Regions from separate parts of the Homo sapiens genome. Here region 2 is linked to region 1. A link means that fine-mapping ties the variant in region 1 to the expression of a gene that starts in the linked region. Tissue or cell type: fibroblasts. Region 1 holds a variant in brackets; the other region holds the start of a gene. All regions are shown on one strand. Distances are between the middles of the regions.

Region 1 (8,107 bases):
ATAATAGCCTTGTGGTTATGAAGGAAAATGTTCTTCTTTTTAGGAGATACTTGCTGAAGGGCTAAGCGTTATGTCTACAATTTATCTTCCACATATATTGAAAACTTAGAGAAAAAAGCAAATGTGGTAAATATTAGAAGTAGTTAAATTTAGATACTGGGTGTATGGGTAGTCATTGAACTAGTAATTAAAGGTCTGTGAATCAGTTGGAATTGCTTCTGGCTGCAAATAAAACTCAACTGACAAGAGTTTCAATTTTAAGAACCTTCAACCTTGGCTAAACAAGAATTGCAGCTGTTGTCCATTTAGTGTTGGTGCAGCCACTCAGTGATGCCATTGAGACCCCATGTTGATCTATCCATCTGCCTTGTCATTTTCAGCAGATTGGCTTCTGACACTGTCAATTCATGATTGCAAGACAGCTGCTGCAGCTGTAGGCACTGTCACACTCCCAGACAGGATGTGGGTGGGGAAGAGCAAAAGCAAACTCTCCTCTTGCACTTGCATCATTTATCAGAAAGCAGATTCTTTCCCTGAAGCCCCCAGGAGACTTCTACTTATACCTCACTGGCCAGAATGGTCCTATGCCAATCCTAGCTACAGGGTAGTCTAGGGAAGGAAATCACCACGTGGAATTTATATCTACTGTGATTCATCCCCTTGGGCTACAGGTGTACTGTCACCCTGAACAAAAGTGGTGTTAACAAAAAAAAAAAAAAAAAAAAGAAAGTTAAAAAAAAGGAGAAAATGGAAGCTGTTTGTCATTGGCTAAATAGATACCCTTTTTCTCTGGAAGGGAAATTGTTCTGTTCCACAAGATATCAGAAATGATTTTTAAATGAAACTAAAACTCTTGCCACATGACATCAGATTGATGTTTAACAGAAAGATAAATGGTGCCTGAAAGGAGTTTTAGTTTCTTGTTCTTCTTTAGCTCAGGAAAAACAGAAAGTTTTTAGCTATCTATGGAAACTATTTTTGCTTAACTTTCGATTTTGGTAATACATTTCAATATACAGTTTACTTCCCACAATTGTTTTCATTGTGATAGACATTGTGAGGCAGAACAGAATATTTATTTCTACTCATCATATTATTAGCCACCGTTTGTTGAGTGTCCCTTATATGCAAGGCATTATAATAGGTGGTTACATCTTCTCTCATTTATGTAAGAGGATGTGCCTGGCTGTTACAAAAAGCCCTAGATCAAGTCTGAGTCATCAGACTTAATAAAGAAGAAGAAAACGGAAAGTTTTCAACAACCATTCTAATTTCTACTTCATTCCCAGCCTGTGTGAGGCCACTATAATAAGATACTCTTGACATCTGGGCTCTTAAAATGGAAATCCATTTATTGGTTAAAACAAAGAACAGCCATAACTAGAATTCCCTTCTGTTCCCTTCCCTATCCCTTGGCCCAAGGGTAGGGTTTCTTTTAGAAAGGAAGCAAGACACTCATTGTAGAGTCTTAGCTCAGTAATAGCCACCTAACCATCACTGGGGGCCACAGTCATGTGTCCTGGAAAGGCATAGAAGGCGTGACCTATGCCCAGAAGGTTTCTGTGTGTGAAGTCCTTCATCATGAGGCCATTTGGTGATGATTTAGCATGTGGTGTGGATGACTGAGGTCCAGCTTCTAACTCTGGTTGACTGCCGAGAGATGCCGTGAAGTGCTGTGTTGTTTTCTGGAGTCTTAGCAAAGAAGAGAAGCATAGGCTGACAGCACTCTTGGCCTACCCCATGGCTCTTGGCCATTTGTTGTCTCAGGTAAGCCTAGTTAAAGAGAAGCCCAACAGAGCCAAGGCTGGCAGAGAGGACCAAGAGGCTATAGACTGGTGGGTTGAAGTGAAGGTAGTGGGTACACCACTGGGAAACTAGACACTGGTTTCTGAAGGAAGAAACCATTCAGAAGGAGAAGGGCCAGAGGAACCTATGAACATCCAGGTCAGGAGATGAAAGTTAGATCAACGTCTGGCAAATTAGCAGAGAGTAGACATGGACAGAGAGCAGAGCAATGCCTGGGTGGAGCTTGTAGAGTCTCCTACTGCGTGTTCCTTCATTTAACAAAGATTTTGTTAGTATATACTATGTGCCAGAAACTGTTCTAGGTACCAGAAATATAGTAGTGAACAAAACAGACAAAGATTCCTGCCCCTCATTCTCCGTGTAGTCATAATTTGTTTTTTCCACTTACATTCTAGTGAGGAAAACAAATTATAAACAAGATGTATGAATAAATTATAAGTAAATTATGTAGTATGTTAGTGGCAAATAGTAAGCAAAAAAATAATGCAGCAAAAAGAGATAAAGGAGTGTAAAGATGCTGTGCTTACAACATAGTGGCCACTAGCCTTGTGTGGCTGATGATATTTAAATTAGTTAAAGTTAAAAATTCCATTTCCATGTCATACAAGCCACATTTCCAGTGCTCAAAAGCCTCATAGTGGCCATCCTATTGGACAGTGAAGATAAAGTTTCATCAAGCACAAAGTTCTGTTGGTCAGTGCTTTTATAAAGGGTGCAATATTTAGGTGGGGTGGGTAGGGAAGGTCCTACTGCAAAGATAACTTTTAAATAAAGACCCAATGGAGTTGATGGGGTTGATGGGCTGATGGCCTGACTCCTGAGCCTGCCTAGAGGAAGAGTATTCCAGACAGAGGGAATGGCAAGTGCAAAGGTTCGGGAGATGGGAGTGAAGTCCATGTGGCTGGAGCATAGTCGATGGGGTAGGGTAGTAGAGGAGGTCAGAGAAGTGAATGGAGGGAACAGATCCTGAGGCCCTTGTGGACCTTTGTAAGGACTTTGTATTTTACCCTACGTGAGATGAGAACCATTAGAGGTTTTGAGCAGAGGAGTTTCATGATCTGACTTAGATTTTTAATAGAACCCCTCTCGCTGCTATGATGAGGATAGATTGAAAGTGGGCCAAGGCACAGATAGGGGATAAGTGAGGGGATATTGCAATAACCCTGGAAAGAGGTGGGGGTGTTTAGGCTGGTAGCAGTGGTGGTGGTGAAAAGTAATCAGATTCAGGATATTCTTTTGAAGGCTCAGGCAACATGATGCCTGACTGGGGTGTAGGGTTTAAAAGAGAGAACAGATGAAGGTTTTCTGGTCTGAGCAACAGGAAGAATGGAGTTTTCACTCACTAAGATGGGGAAGCCGGGGGTGGAACGAGTTTGAATGGAATAAGATCAGGAGTTCCGTTTTGGACATGTTAAATGTGATACGCCTACTCAGGCTCCCATGGATGTTGGACAAGTGGTGGTTGCTGGACTTAGAAATTTGGGACTTGTCGGCCTTGTGGTATTTTAAATCATGAGGCTGGTGATATCCTTAAAGGAGTGGGTTTAAATAGAAAATAGAAGAGGTGGCCAGGCTCACTCCTGTAATCCCAGCCCTTCGGGAGGCCAAGGCAAGTGTATTGCTTTAGTCCAGGAGCTTGAGACCAACCTGGGCAACATGGTGAAACCCTGTCTCTACTAAAAATAAAAATTAAGAAATAGCCAGACATGATAGTGCATGCCTGTAATCCCAGCTACTCAGGAGGTTGAGGTGGGAGAATCATCTGAGCCCGGGAGCTCAAGGCTGCAGTGAGCCGAGATCACACCACTGTAATTCAGTCTCGGCAACCAGAGTGAGACCCTGTCAAGAAAGGAAAGAGAAGGGAAGGGAAGGGTAGAGGAGGAGAGGGCAGGGGAGGAGAGTGGAGGGGAGGGGGTCCAAGACCAGATGCTTGAGGACGCTAAAGATAGGAGGTTGGTAAAGGAGGCAATAGAAGGAGCAGCCAGTGTTGGAAGAGAAAAGCCAGGAGAAGGGGGTGCATGAAGCTTAGTGAGGCAGGGTTCACAAAGGAGGAAGGGAGCAAGGTGTCACATGCAGAGATGAGCACTCAGAACTGACAGCTGGATTGCACCCTGTGGGGGGTAATTGATGACCTTGTGAGGAGTAGATATGTTGAGAGATGGGGATGAAAGTTGTTCACAGTGGGTTGAGGGAGAATTGAAGCAAGAACAAATGATCCTTTCAAGATATAAAGGTGAGTAGAGAGCTGGGGTAGTAGCCAAGAGAAGAACAGGGAGGCCAAGAGAAAGTTATTGTTGCTGTTTTTGTTTTTTTGTGTTTTTTTTTTTTTGTTTGTTTTTCAAATGATCCTTTATTGAAATATTTTCCTTTGTGCTTCTTAATTAGCTGGGCATTCCACAGCACCACCGTTGATGTCATCTATGATATCATGAGGGTGGCAGCCATCAACATTGCAGCCCACAGACTGGGGAGTCCCCAGGATCTCTTTAATGATTCCAGAGAGTTCTCTGGCTAAAGATCGGTGCCACATGTGTTGAGCAACATTGACAATCTCATCAAAAGTGATATTTCCACTGTGTTTAATGTTTTTCTGTTTCTTTCTGTCTCTTGGCGGTTCCTTGAGGGCTTTGATGATCAGGGCAGAGGCAGAAGTCACCACCTCAATCTGGGCCTCTCTGTTCTAAATGATCAGTTTCACTGTAATCCTCAGATCCTTTCAGTCACCAGTTGCTTTAGCAATGTCATCACCAACCTTTTCTGAAGACAGACCTAGGGGGCTGATCTTGGGGGCCAACACAGACGTGGCACCCACTTCATCCCCAGTACACCTTAGGTATGTGACTTTGATCTCATTGGGGTAGAACTTCGGCAGCATGGCAGAGGTGGCTAGATTCAGGACGACCCAAGAAAGTTGCACCTTGGCCTCCTCCCAGCTGAAAGCTGAAAGCCTTGTTGCTGTTTTTTGAAGAGATTCTTGGAATAACAGCTTGTTTGTAAGACCTAGTAAAGAGAACGTTTGAGGACACATGAGCAGGGGGGAAGAAAGACTGGAGGGAAGAGGGATGTGGGGGGGAATTGG[T/C]CTGTGCCAGGAGCCTGGAGACAGGAGGAGTGGCAGAGCCCAGGGCCTGGGTGCAGGCAGGGGGGCAGGTGTGGGGATGAGAGCTCAAGGAAGTCCTCTCCCATGCTTTTTAGATCTTTAGTGACACAGGAAACACAGTCATCAGTGCAGAGTGAGTGTGGGAGAATTTTCAGGAGAGAAGAGAGGTCATTTAGGGAAGTGGGAATGTCAGTGGACACGAGAAATGCAGTCCAATGGCAGCCCAGCCCAAGGACCAACCTGGTGCTGAGACTTTGAAGGGAGACTAGCCAGTGAGGAGTGATCTTCTCCTGGCCAGACCCTCTACCCAGACTGGGCCAGATGGAAGATCCTGACACATTCCAGAGAATTCCTGCTGTGGCAGGCTAGCTCCCAAGAAGCTCTTTCCACCAGCCGATGGGCCAGTGGGGTTGGCTTGAGCAGACTGTGGTTCCAGCACTTTAATGCAGTTTCTGTCACTGGAGGATTTGTCCAGTGCTGGGGTGTGGAGTGACAGCAAAACCCTGATGCCTCAGGCATGGCTGAAGTGCTGAAGCACAGAGGGTGCACCTGGGGAGAGGCCACAGGGTTGGTGACCTCTGCGGGTGTGAATGACCCCAGGCACTGTTTCAGTGTTGGGGTGGGTGGCTGGGTAGTGCTCCTGTGTCAGGGGTTGACATGTCCAGAGTCAATGTCCTTCCTCAGTGCCATATGCCAACCTTTAGGTTCCAGAGGGCCTTTTGAGTGACCTGCCATGGTTCCTCCATGACTAGCTTCTGGGGTGATGGGGTGGCACCTCACCCTGTCTAAGCTGAAACTTATCACACTGGGTTGTAATTCATGGTCTATTTGCTGTTATCCCTGGGCTGTAAGTGTAAGAACCCTCTCCAACTTTCTTACCACTTTATCCCCAATGCCTGGCAAAATACCTAAATACATGAATACATACAAGAGGGCAGGTGAGAAGGAAGGATGGGAGGAAGGAAGAGGGAAGGAAGGAAAAAAGAAGGGAAAGAAAAGAAAGGAAGGGAGGAGGGGAGGAAGGAAGGAAAGGGTAGATATGGAATCCCTGCCACTATAGCAGGGCTATTCTGCTGAGGGTTGCAATGATGGATCTGAATCAGTGGTAGCCTCCATAGGGGATGTGGCGATGAGGTAGGGTAGAAGGCAGTGGGTGCCATAAAGAGGGCTTTCAGCAGGGCTCTCTAAAACCAGGAAGACACACATGAGATTGCAGGGCATAACCAGGAAGACTGGGATGCCACTGCCTGGCCAGATGGGGGTCTGATCCACTCTCCTAAATGACCTCTCTTCTCTCCTGAAAACTTTCCCACACTCACTCTGCACTGATAACTGTGTTTCCTGTGGCACTAAAGATCTAAATCAGAACCGCATTTCTGACCCCCATTTATGACCCCCATTTCTGATGGGCATCAGAAAGGTGAAAATAAGGAGTGATGGTCAGGATGGGCAAGAGGAAGCAGGAAAGGAGTCCTGGCAAGTAGCTGAGACAGGCCCTGGCCCCCAGCTCTGTGGGGAAGGTGCAGGGTGAGTGTGTTGAAAGGCTGGAGAGGAGGCCGCCTGCAGCTGGGAATCCACAGAGGGCTGTATTAGTCCATTTTCACACTGCTGATAAAGACATACCTGAGACTGGGAAGAAAAAGAGGTTTAATTGGACTTACAGTTCCACATGGCTAGGGAGGCCTCAGAGTCATGGTGGGAGGTGAAAGGCTCATCTTACATGGTGGCGGCAAGAGAAAATGAGGAAGAAGCAAACGCAGAAACCCCTAATAAACCCATGAGATCTTGTGAGACTTATTCACTACCACAAGCATAGCGCAGGAAAGACTGGCCCCCGTGATTCAATTACCTCCCCCTGGGTCCTTCCCACAACACGTGGAAATTCTGGGAGATACAATTTGAGATTTGGATGGGGACACAGCCAAGCCATATCAGGGCACAGCAGCTTTGGTGATCCACCGCTCCTTCCTGCTCCTCCCAGGTAAAGGGGAGTCTCTCTCCAGACTTGATTCATCCCTTCCCTTTCTTATTCCTCTCCGACTTTCGCACCTTCCACCCCAACCTCTGGATTTTGTCTGCAGTTATCCTTTCTCTTTTCAATAGGCCTCTGTACCCACTGTTCTCCCAACCTGGAGAGCTGTCTCTACCCCTAATCCTCACTTGCTAGTTCAGTTCCTTCTTGGCCCTCAGATTTTGCCGTGGGGCAACTTCCTGCCATTTTTACATACTTTCATTGCATTCTGGGCTACTTCCTTTATGGCACATATATCAATGGAAATGCCTTGCTTATTTCTCTATTTCTAGACTTAAGAAAAGGGATACAGGTGGATATTTCCCTAGCGGTCCCTCAGTGACAAATGAATGAAGACAACTTTGTCAAAAGAAAACAAAATCCCTGAGAATCCCCTAACTTGGTGCCTGTATTTTTATCCAGCACTGGTGTACTCTCTAAAAGCAAATTCATGCTAAACAGCATTTTACTCTTTCTGATTAGCTGGCAAAATTTGCTCCAAATAAATAATGTATATATATTTATTGTTTAATAATGCTCGTGGTTTAAATACATGTGTTTTAGGAGCAACTTTGATTTACCTCATGAGTCCAAGATTTTTTATTTTTATAAGTTGTGCCTTATGAATGTGGGTAAGAGAGGAATCAAAATGAAATTAATCTTTTATCTTTGGATGGTTAAGAGAACTGCAATATTAAGGACATTAGGATGTCTCAAAATATTAGATGCAAAAATGTGTATTTTTGTTTAAATATGTTTGAATTATCAAATATAGAACAAATAGAGGAAGGTGGCTGGGTGTAGTGGCTCATTCCTGTAATCCCAGCATTTTGGGAGGCCAAGGTGGGCTGATCACTTGAGGTCAGGAGTTCAAGACCAGCCTGGCCAACATGGTGAAACCCCCGTCTCTAATTTATTTATTTATTTATTTATTTATTTGAGATGGAGTCTCACTCTGTCACGCAGGCTGGAGTGCAGTGGCGCTATCTTGGCTCACTGGAACCTCTGCCTCCCAAGTTCAAGCGATTCTCCTGCCTCAGCCTCCAGAGTAGCTGGGACTACAGGTGCACGCCTCCACGCCTGGCTAATTTTTTATATTTTTAGTAGAGATGGGGTTTCACCATATTAGCCAGGATGGCCTCGATCTCCTGACCTCATGATCCACCTGCCTCAGCCTCCGAAAGTGCTGGGAC
Region 2 (8,091 bases), 130 kb before region 1:
CGTCTTGACGCTACCTAATGGCTTCAGTTTACTGAAAACGTGCCCTTTTTATAGCTTCTCAGGGCTTCTTTCTACTGACTGATTTTTTAGCTTCTGCTTCCACCACGTGATTTTCTCTTCCTATTTCCAGTTCAAATTCTTGAAAGAGAGTGGGTGTTCATGTCAGGTCACCTCTTGAGGTTGGCTGCCCTTGGGTTATACAGTTCATGAAGGGGGTTGTATGGTATAGATCATGGCTCAGGTTGCTGCCTCAGCTGGGTCCACTGGCTGGGGTAGTTCCCTTAAAAAGGGAATCTGATATAGCAAGCCCTTGAATGACCTCTCAGGCACACTCTTTTTGTTTTGACTTCATTTCTTTGATTTTCTTTTTTCTTAAAGAATGTTTAACATACCACAAAAGCAACATTTTGACATATTTTTCATGTTTTTTTAAACAAAATTCTTTTTAATTTAAAATAATCATGTTATCTATTTTAACCATTTTAACAACAGTTGTTGTCCAATTGACTTTAATAGAAATATATAATATTTGAACTAGGCCGGGCATGGTGGCTCATACCTATAATCATAGCACTGTGGGAGGCCAAAGTGGGCAGATCACTTGAGGCCAAGAGTTCGAGACCAGCCTGGCCAACATGGTGAAACCATGTTTCTACCAAAAAAATACAAAAATTAACCAGGCACGGTGGCACACACCTGTAGCCCCAGCAAGTCAGGAGGCTAAGGTACGAGAATCGCTTGAACCCAGGAGGTGGAGGTTGCAGTGAGCTAAGATGGTGCCACTGCACTCCAGCCTGGGTGACAGAATCAGACTCTGTCTCAAAAACAAAACGAAACAAAGAAAGGAAAAGAAAAAGAAAAAAAGAGAAAGATATTTGAACTAAATTTTTCTTAAAATTCCTGAAATTTAATGTCATAGGGAAAATGTTTATGTTTATAATGTTCAACTGGCACTTTTATACAGTTATTTGCAAGAAGATAAATGCATTTTAATAGTTACTTTAGAATTATGCGTGTGGATATCAGAGACTAGCAAAGATGAGCAGGAAAGATCTGGAATATGTTGACTTTTATAAAGTAGGTTAAAAGCATTTTCCTTTTGAAACAGAATGTTCTCTTAGGCATTTTTTCTGGTGCTTTGCGATTAAAATATAAACGGCTATGTGTAAAACTTAACTGCAGACTGTTATTGTTGGAAATTATTTTTATATGCACAAATTGTGATGGAAAGGAGAGTAGACTGGAAACATAAATTTGTGCTTTCGTTTTACTCTGACTTAGAGGGAAGACAACTTAAATTGCCTTCTATACTACCTTACCACTGCAAAATGGGAAGTGAAGTCAGGCAGTAAACTGCTTCCTGTCTTCTTGCAGGAAGGAAACAAATTATATATAAATATACATAGCCAAACTTCAGTTTCTCTCCACTCAATCTATCCTATGCACGGCACTGATTTGGCACTAGTAACATGTTATATTATTTCCCTTTTGTCAACCTTGGGTGTATATTAGAACCACTTGGGAAGCTTTTTTAAAAACCCAATGACTAGCCTCACACACCAATTTATTTATTTATTTACTGTGGGGTGCGGTTTGAGTACTGATAATTTTGAAAGGCATCCTAAGTGATTCTAATGAGCAGACAGGAAGCCACAAGGCAAAAGGAGAAAATCTGAACAACTGAGCTTGCCTTCAAGGTGTTCTATTATCTATCTGCAACCTAGCTTGCCAGGCTTGGCTGACTCAAGTTGCCTCCCATGCCCTCTGAACATTGCTTGTGCTTCCCCTCTTGTGTTATTTCTCCAGGCATTCTGGGAGTTACTTTCTCACCATTTTATCTGGTTCAAATTCCTCCCCAGTTTTCTAGACCCAGCCCATTTTGCCTTTTTCATGAAGCCTTCCCTGACTGCCCTTGACTGCAGTGCTTGCATCCTCCTCTGAAAACACAGCGGCTAATGCCTAGAAAATCATTTGAACAATGAATCGATTATGTACTGCCTTATGTAATCTCTCCACTGCTGCATTAAATAATTACTTTAATCTTTGCTTAACCTTTCATCTGTTTGTTATGCAGCTAACTATACTATAAGCAAGCTTCTAGCATTCATCTGTATCCTTGACAAGCCACGTGCCTTGTACAGTACAGGAAGTCAATAATATTTACCTGTCCCTTCCATCCTGACTTCCACAGGTTTGGTTCGAGATTCTCTCCTGGAATCTTGTCCTGGTCTTGGCTGGGCTTCCTGCCACCAGAAACTTTGGCTCTTCAAATCAGGTCAACACATTACTGGCACACATGGCCAATGGCCAGTAAAACTGATGGTGTGTGTGTGTGTGTGTGTGTGTGTGTGCATGCGCGTAGGTGTGCACTCTTTTGCCCACTCTTGTTTCTCTCTATCTTATGATCTGGCTGACTCGGTTTCTTTCCTTCCTTGGTCCCTCACTCTCCTACTCAATGGGACTTGACGGCAGAATTCAACGTCTCAGGTTTTGACTGCTTGTGTTCTCTAAGATGAATAACATGCTGCCTGGATCTTCCTCTCCCTATTTCTTTGAGTAAACACTTGTCCTGAACAGGCTCTGGCCAAGGGGACCTAAATTAAGTCAGTCTGATCTGTCAAGAATTTCCTCTCTACCCTGTTTTTTTTTCTTTGGATTCTCACCATTTAAAAGAAACCTGATTGCATTGTCCACATGATTAAAAGCTGTTGTCTGTCCCTCATTGCCTTAAGAAGAAAATCTAAACCTGAGCTATCCAATATGGGAGTTGTTAAAGTTAAAATTAAAAATTAATGCCAGACATGGTGGTTCACACCTGTAATCCCAGCACTTTGGGAGGCTGAGGTGGGTGGAGCACCTGAGGTCAGGAGTTCGAGACCAGCCTGGCCAACATGGTGAACCCCTGTCTCTACAAAAAATACAAAAATTAGCTGGGTGTGGTGGTGAGTTCATGTAACCCCAGCTACTCAGGAGGCTGAGGCAGGAGAATTGCTTGAACCTGGGAAGTGGAAGTGCAGTGAGGTAAGATCCCACCACTGTACTCCAGCCTGGGTGACAGAGGGAGACTCTGCCAAAAAAAAAAAAAATTAAAAATTGAGTTTCAGCCGTGTATGGTAGTTCATGTCTGTAATCCCAGCACTTTGGGAGGCTGAGGTGGGAGGATCACTTAAGCACTCTACCCCAGTTTGGGTGACAGAGTGAGACCTTGTCTCAAAAATAAATAAATAAATAAATAAATACATTGAGCTCTTCAGTCACACCACATTTCAAGTATTTGATAGCCACATGTGGCTAATGGCTACTATTTTGGACAACACAAATATAGAACATTTTCACCAGTGCAGAAAGCTCTGCTGGACAGTGCTTGTCTGAATATCTTAGTGTAGCTTGTGAGGTCTTTTACAATCTCACCTCAACCTTTTGCTCCAGCCCAATTTTTGGCCGTTCCTCATCATTTAACCCCATCTACCTTCTCAACATTCCACAATGGCTCTGTGCCCTTTCACAGCTCCATGCCTTTGAACATGGTGTTCTCCCTTTCTGAAATACCCTTTGACTTTCTTCTCTGGCAAACTCCCATTTACCTTTTAAGATCCAACTCAAACATTACCTTCCTTGTGGAGTTCGCTGACTTTCCTAAACAGTCATTTCTTGTCCTCTGTTTCCATTGCTCATTGAACCAATCTCTATTGTCCTTATCACTGTAGTTTGTTATTATTTACTCATTAATCTGATCCTCCCTTTGGAGGGGGATCCTATCTGTTTTAGCAATCTGCCCTAATAATTACCTGAAATTGTTTGCTTGATACCCTTTTGATATCAAGTAATATATCTTCTTATTTATGTGCTTGTTATTTATGAGTTCAGCATGTTTGAAAAGTTCACTTAGTGTTTCTGGAGAAATCCTGCCCATTTCTAGTGTAAAGCTAGAATGAACTTCCTGTCTTCTAGGGTGGAGGTCAGTTTTTCTTCTAATTAATCCTGACCAGTCTTGAGAAGGATGTGGTAGGAGAGGTTTACAAGGTCAAAAACAGCAGTACTGTCTGCAGGCGCAGGTTCAGGTGTTCTCGGGTTCCAGTTATTATACAAAACATTTAGTATATGTTCAGAGAAAAAGTAGGGAGGAATGATGGAAAAAATAAAAACAACCCCCATGGAAAGAAAACTGAGGCATCGTATTTGACTTTTTCCAGGCTAAGCCCAAAAGCAATGATGTAGTGAGGGGGAAGTTTGTATTTCCATTTTGCAAAAACGTAATTTTTTTTTCCTCCCGGGATTTGATAAGATTTTGATAAATTCTTGTGAATTTAATTACAGGGAAGTAAATCCTACTGACTAGTAAATTATCAATTTGTTTCTCTTTTCTCACAAAAGAGAAACAAATTGATACCCTTCACATCATCCGGTAAGGTTTATTTTTTTCTGAGAAGGCCATAAGCCCTAACGGCTCAGAATCTAAGAGACCTTCGCTGATTGTCATCGCCTAGCGGCCACCGCAAACCTTACAGTCAATCAACTTCCCTCGGACGCCCGGATCACGCCCATTGCTCAGACCACGCCCACTCAAGGCGCCTCATGGCTCCGCCCCAGGCCCAGCAGAAGAAGATTCTCATTGGTGGAGAAGTTGTTCTGATCCCGCCCCGGAGGACGGCGATAGGCTGAACTGGCGTGGGGCGGTGGTGGTTGGCTGCTTGAGGACGGGTCCCTGGTCGTGCCTGTCAGAGAGGCTGGCGGCAGTGGTGGCTCTCCCGGCTGGGTTGTCAGTCAGTGAGAGGAGGGGGAAGATGGCTCACCGGGACCCGTTCTGCTAGGAAGAAGGGGAGCAGGTGGTGCTGCTACTCGGGAGGAAGCAGAGCAGCCTCCGTCGCTGTCGCTGAGAGCCTCACGAGTCGAGGTCCTGCAGGTGGAGCTCCGGCAGCCGCCCTGGTGAGTCCAGCCGAGAGACCCACGCCGGGCCCCCAGGGCGTCCGGCAACGGATAACTTTTTTTTGTCAGGGAGGAGCCGGGGCGAGGCGGCGGCGAGGACAGGACCGGGACTTTGTCCCTGGGGCCGCGGCTCCACTGGGGGTAACGGCTCCCGCGCGAGGCGCCATGGGTGGGTGCGAGGCGGCGCGGGGCGCTGGGGGCGGCTGGCGGGCGGGTGGGCTGCGGCCGGCGCTGCTCGCCCCGAAGTTGGGCGCAGCCTGCCCGCTGCCTGGAGGGCGGCAGCTTTGTGCGCGCGACTCGGGTCTTTCCTTCCCGGCGAGGAGCAGTCCAGCCTCCTGCTGTGACCCGGGTGCCGCCGCCTCGGCCCCACCGGCCGCCCCTCTGCCGGGTGGGCCTGGGGCGGGAGCCCCCCGTCCCCTCCCTGCCGCGGCGGATGCTCTGGCCTCTGCCTCCTCTCCCACTCGCGCCCTCTACTTCGGCGAGGCCGCCACTGTCCGTCCGGTCTGGTGGCCACAATGGTCACTGTCGACCCCCCGCCCTCGCCCCCTGGAGAGCAGCGTTGGCCCGAGTCGGTCTTTGGTCCCCTGCAGGGCGGAGAGGTTCAGACAGCAGCCACGCTTCCTTCCTTGGTTATTTCGCTGAAGATCTCTTCTTGAGCCCTTGCCCCTTCTTTCTATGAGTTATTCCTCTCCTGAGGCTCATTTTAACATACTCGGGAATCCTCGGGGGTTTGGCTGAAAATGGTTGCATTAAAACACCCCCAAGTTTGTACGCTTCCCCGAAATTTGCTGTCTGCCCGTCAGCTTGCACATGTGTGCTTTGTGAGTTTAGACATTCCTGAAAGATTTTAATTTTGCCTAAGTGGTTTAGTACTGCACAGAATCTGCTCTCTGAGAAATACACTATCACAAGCCTGGCAGCCGCGGCGCTCTTCAGGTAGGGGGAATTTGTTCCACCGGCAGCTACTTCTTATCTCAGAGACTGCCCTACAGGCAGTAGGGCCAAGCTGACCTTTTGCAAATTATTTATCCTTGGATCACACAGTAGTTTTTGGAGCAGGTGGGCCACCTCTTTGGTTCATGTAACACTTTACAGTTTGAGGTTTTCAGCTTTCAAATCTTATTGCCATAAAGTCAGAAAGACTGGGAGGCTTGTTTTCCATGAAAACATTCTACTGCTAACATCCACAGGCACCCCACCTCCCCCGACATTTCCAAGTATTTTTTTTTCTTTAGGTGAATACATTTTAAGGTTTACAGGATGAATAGTAGTCTAAACCACCATATTTTTGAAGTGCAGGCAAAGACAAGGAAGGAAAAACATTTAAGATCTGCTTGGCCAATAGTGGCTTCAAAGTCAGCTATTCAAATAATCAGTTCAATCAAACCAAGTGGCAAGGGGGAAAAGCATCACATATTTAGGAAACAAATTCTGGATTTGGCTCGTTTATCCTTATTCGATTTATTGAAATTACCATGAGGGATTAGAAGGATTAGAAACCTTCTTAGTCATCGGCATTAGCAGTACCTGGATACAGACACCCGATAAGGCATTAGCTGGGTCAGCGTTTATCCTTGCTCTGCTTCCTTTCATTGTTGTATTTCTGTTTTATGAAATTTGCTCTGGGTTGTATTTTTTAGACTGGTGTCTTTGACGGTGAGTTTAAATATATGTACTGTTTTATTCAGCATCCTGTTGCCTAATATTTATTTTATAATGGATCTTAAGAAATTTTAAGAAATCTTAGTATTCAAGACCTATTTTGGGGTATCGTTTATATTTTATAAATGATTGAAATTATATCAAACATAAATTTATTTTTTCACTCTTCCAGGCTGAGTAGGTACTAGGGATACAGAAATGAATGTCATAGCTCTTGTCTTCAAGGAATTTACTATCTAACATACAAGATGTTAGTAACATTACAGTAAATTAACAATTATAATACTATGTAGTCAGTGGGAATAGAGATATGCCTAGTGTAGTAGGAGAGTTTAGAGTAGGAGATAGTTAACTTGCCTTGAGTGTAGGTGGAGTTGGGAGCACACAGCCAAGTTGTGAAGGATGATATGATTTTGCCAAGTGCAGGAGGTAAGTAACTTCCCAAGAGGAGGATATAGTAATTGAGAAGGCAAGGAGGCCTGAGAAACTGTGGCAATTTAGATAAGTCATTGACAATGACGAGTCAGTGTCAATTGACATTGGCAGTTGACAAAGTCAATAACATTGACATTGATATGGCTTGAATGCAGGGGTTAGTAGGAAATGGTGCCAGATGAAGATAGTGAGGGTGGTAGAGGGCCAGATCAGGGAATGGTATCCTTAGCTAAAGGGATTGGATTGAACGTGATAGATGAGAAGCCATTTATTGGATTTGTATTTTAGACCTTTACTGTGGCAGAGTGAGGGAAAAACTAACAAGTCCTAATCACCTATGAGAAGAAAGGAGGACTCAGGACTGTGAAGGTTTGACTTGGGGTTCTGTTGATGGAAATGAGGAACACAAAAATGGAAGGAAGATGATAAATTCTGTTTTGGCTATTTTGAATTTGAGGAAGCAGTGGAACTTCAGGCGAAGATATAGATAGATGTTTGTATCTGTGGATGTGAAAATCAGGATTAGAGAGATGATTGGGGGTTGAATTGAAGCTATATTGATTTAGTTGTGATGAAATGACTCAGGGAAAGCCTTTAGCCTGGTGAAAGTGGCAGCCAGAGAACAGACTCTCATAAATAGCAGAAGTAGGAAGAAGAATTGTCTGAAAGTTAGAGGAATAGTAGCTAGCAAGGTAGGAGGACCATCAGGAAAGATGCCAAGGGCGGGGAGATTTTCCAGTGGAGGAGGAACAGGTTAACAATTTTGAATGCTGTAAGGAGGTGTCAAGTTAGGAGAGGGCCCCAGTGACCACTGAATTTGTCAGGAGTCCATAGGTAACTTTAACAAGAACAGTTTTAACTGAGTGGTGGTTCAGAAACCAGGCTTCAGAAGATTGAGAAAGAATGGGTGTGATAAAGTAGACATGCTTAAGTGAGACTTTTCAAGAGAACTGAAATAAAGAAGGGAGAAAATGATAGCTATAGCTTTCATTGAGTAGTGGTTCTCAATCTTGGCTGTGCATTTACAATAATGTAATAATAATTTACAATAATCTCAGGAACTTTAAA

The links. PIP is the estimated chance that this variant, and not a neighbour inherited with it, causes the effect.
Region 2: HYCC1 starts here. The variant in region 1 is fine-mapped to the expression of HYCC1 in fibroblasts (GTEx, PIP 0.95).

What each region holds. Positions count from the first base shown.
Region 1 is chr7:22,878,467-22,886,573 of GRCh38, reverse strand. All of the region lies in intron 3 of LOC107986776 (a long non-coding RNA gene), which reads left to right. It also overlaps the pseudogene RPL12P10. Among named protein-coding and RNA genes, the nearest start is that of SNORD93, 26 kb to the right of the region's middle. The variant T/C (reference allele first, on the strand shown) is at 4,886.
Region 2 is chr7:23,010,760-23,018,850 of GRCh38, reverse strand. HYCC1 (hyccin PI4KA lipid kinase complex subunit 1) reads left to right here and starts at 4,721. Exons shown (of 11, transcript NM_032581.4): 1 at 4,721-4,926. RefSeq lists enhancers at 4,391-4,570, 4,731-4,920, 5,338-6,019 and a silencer at 5,111-5,380.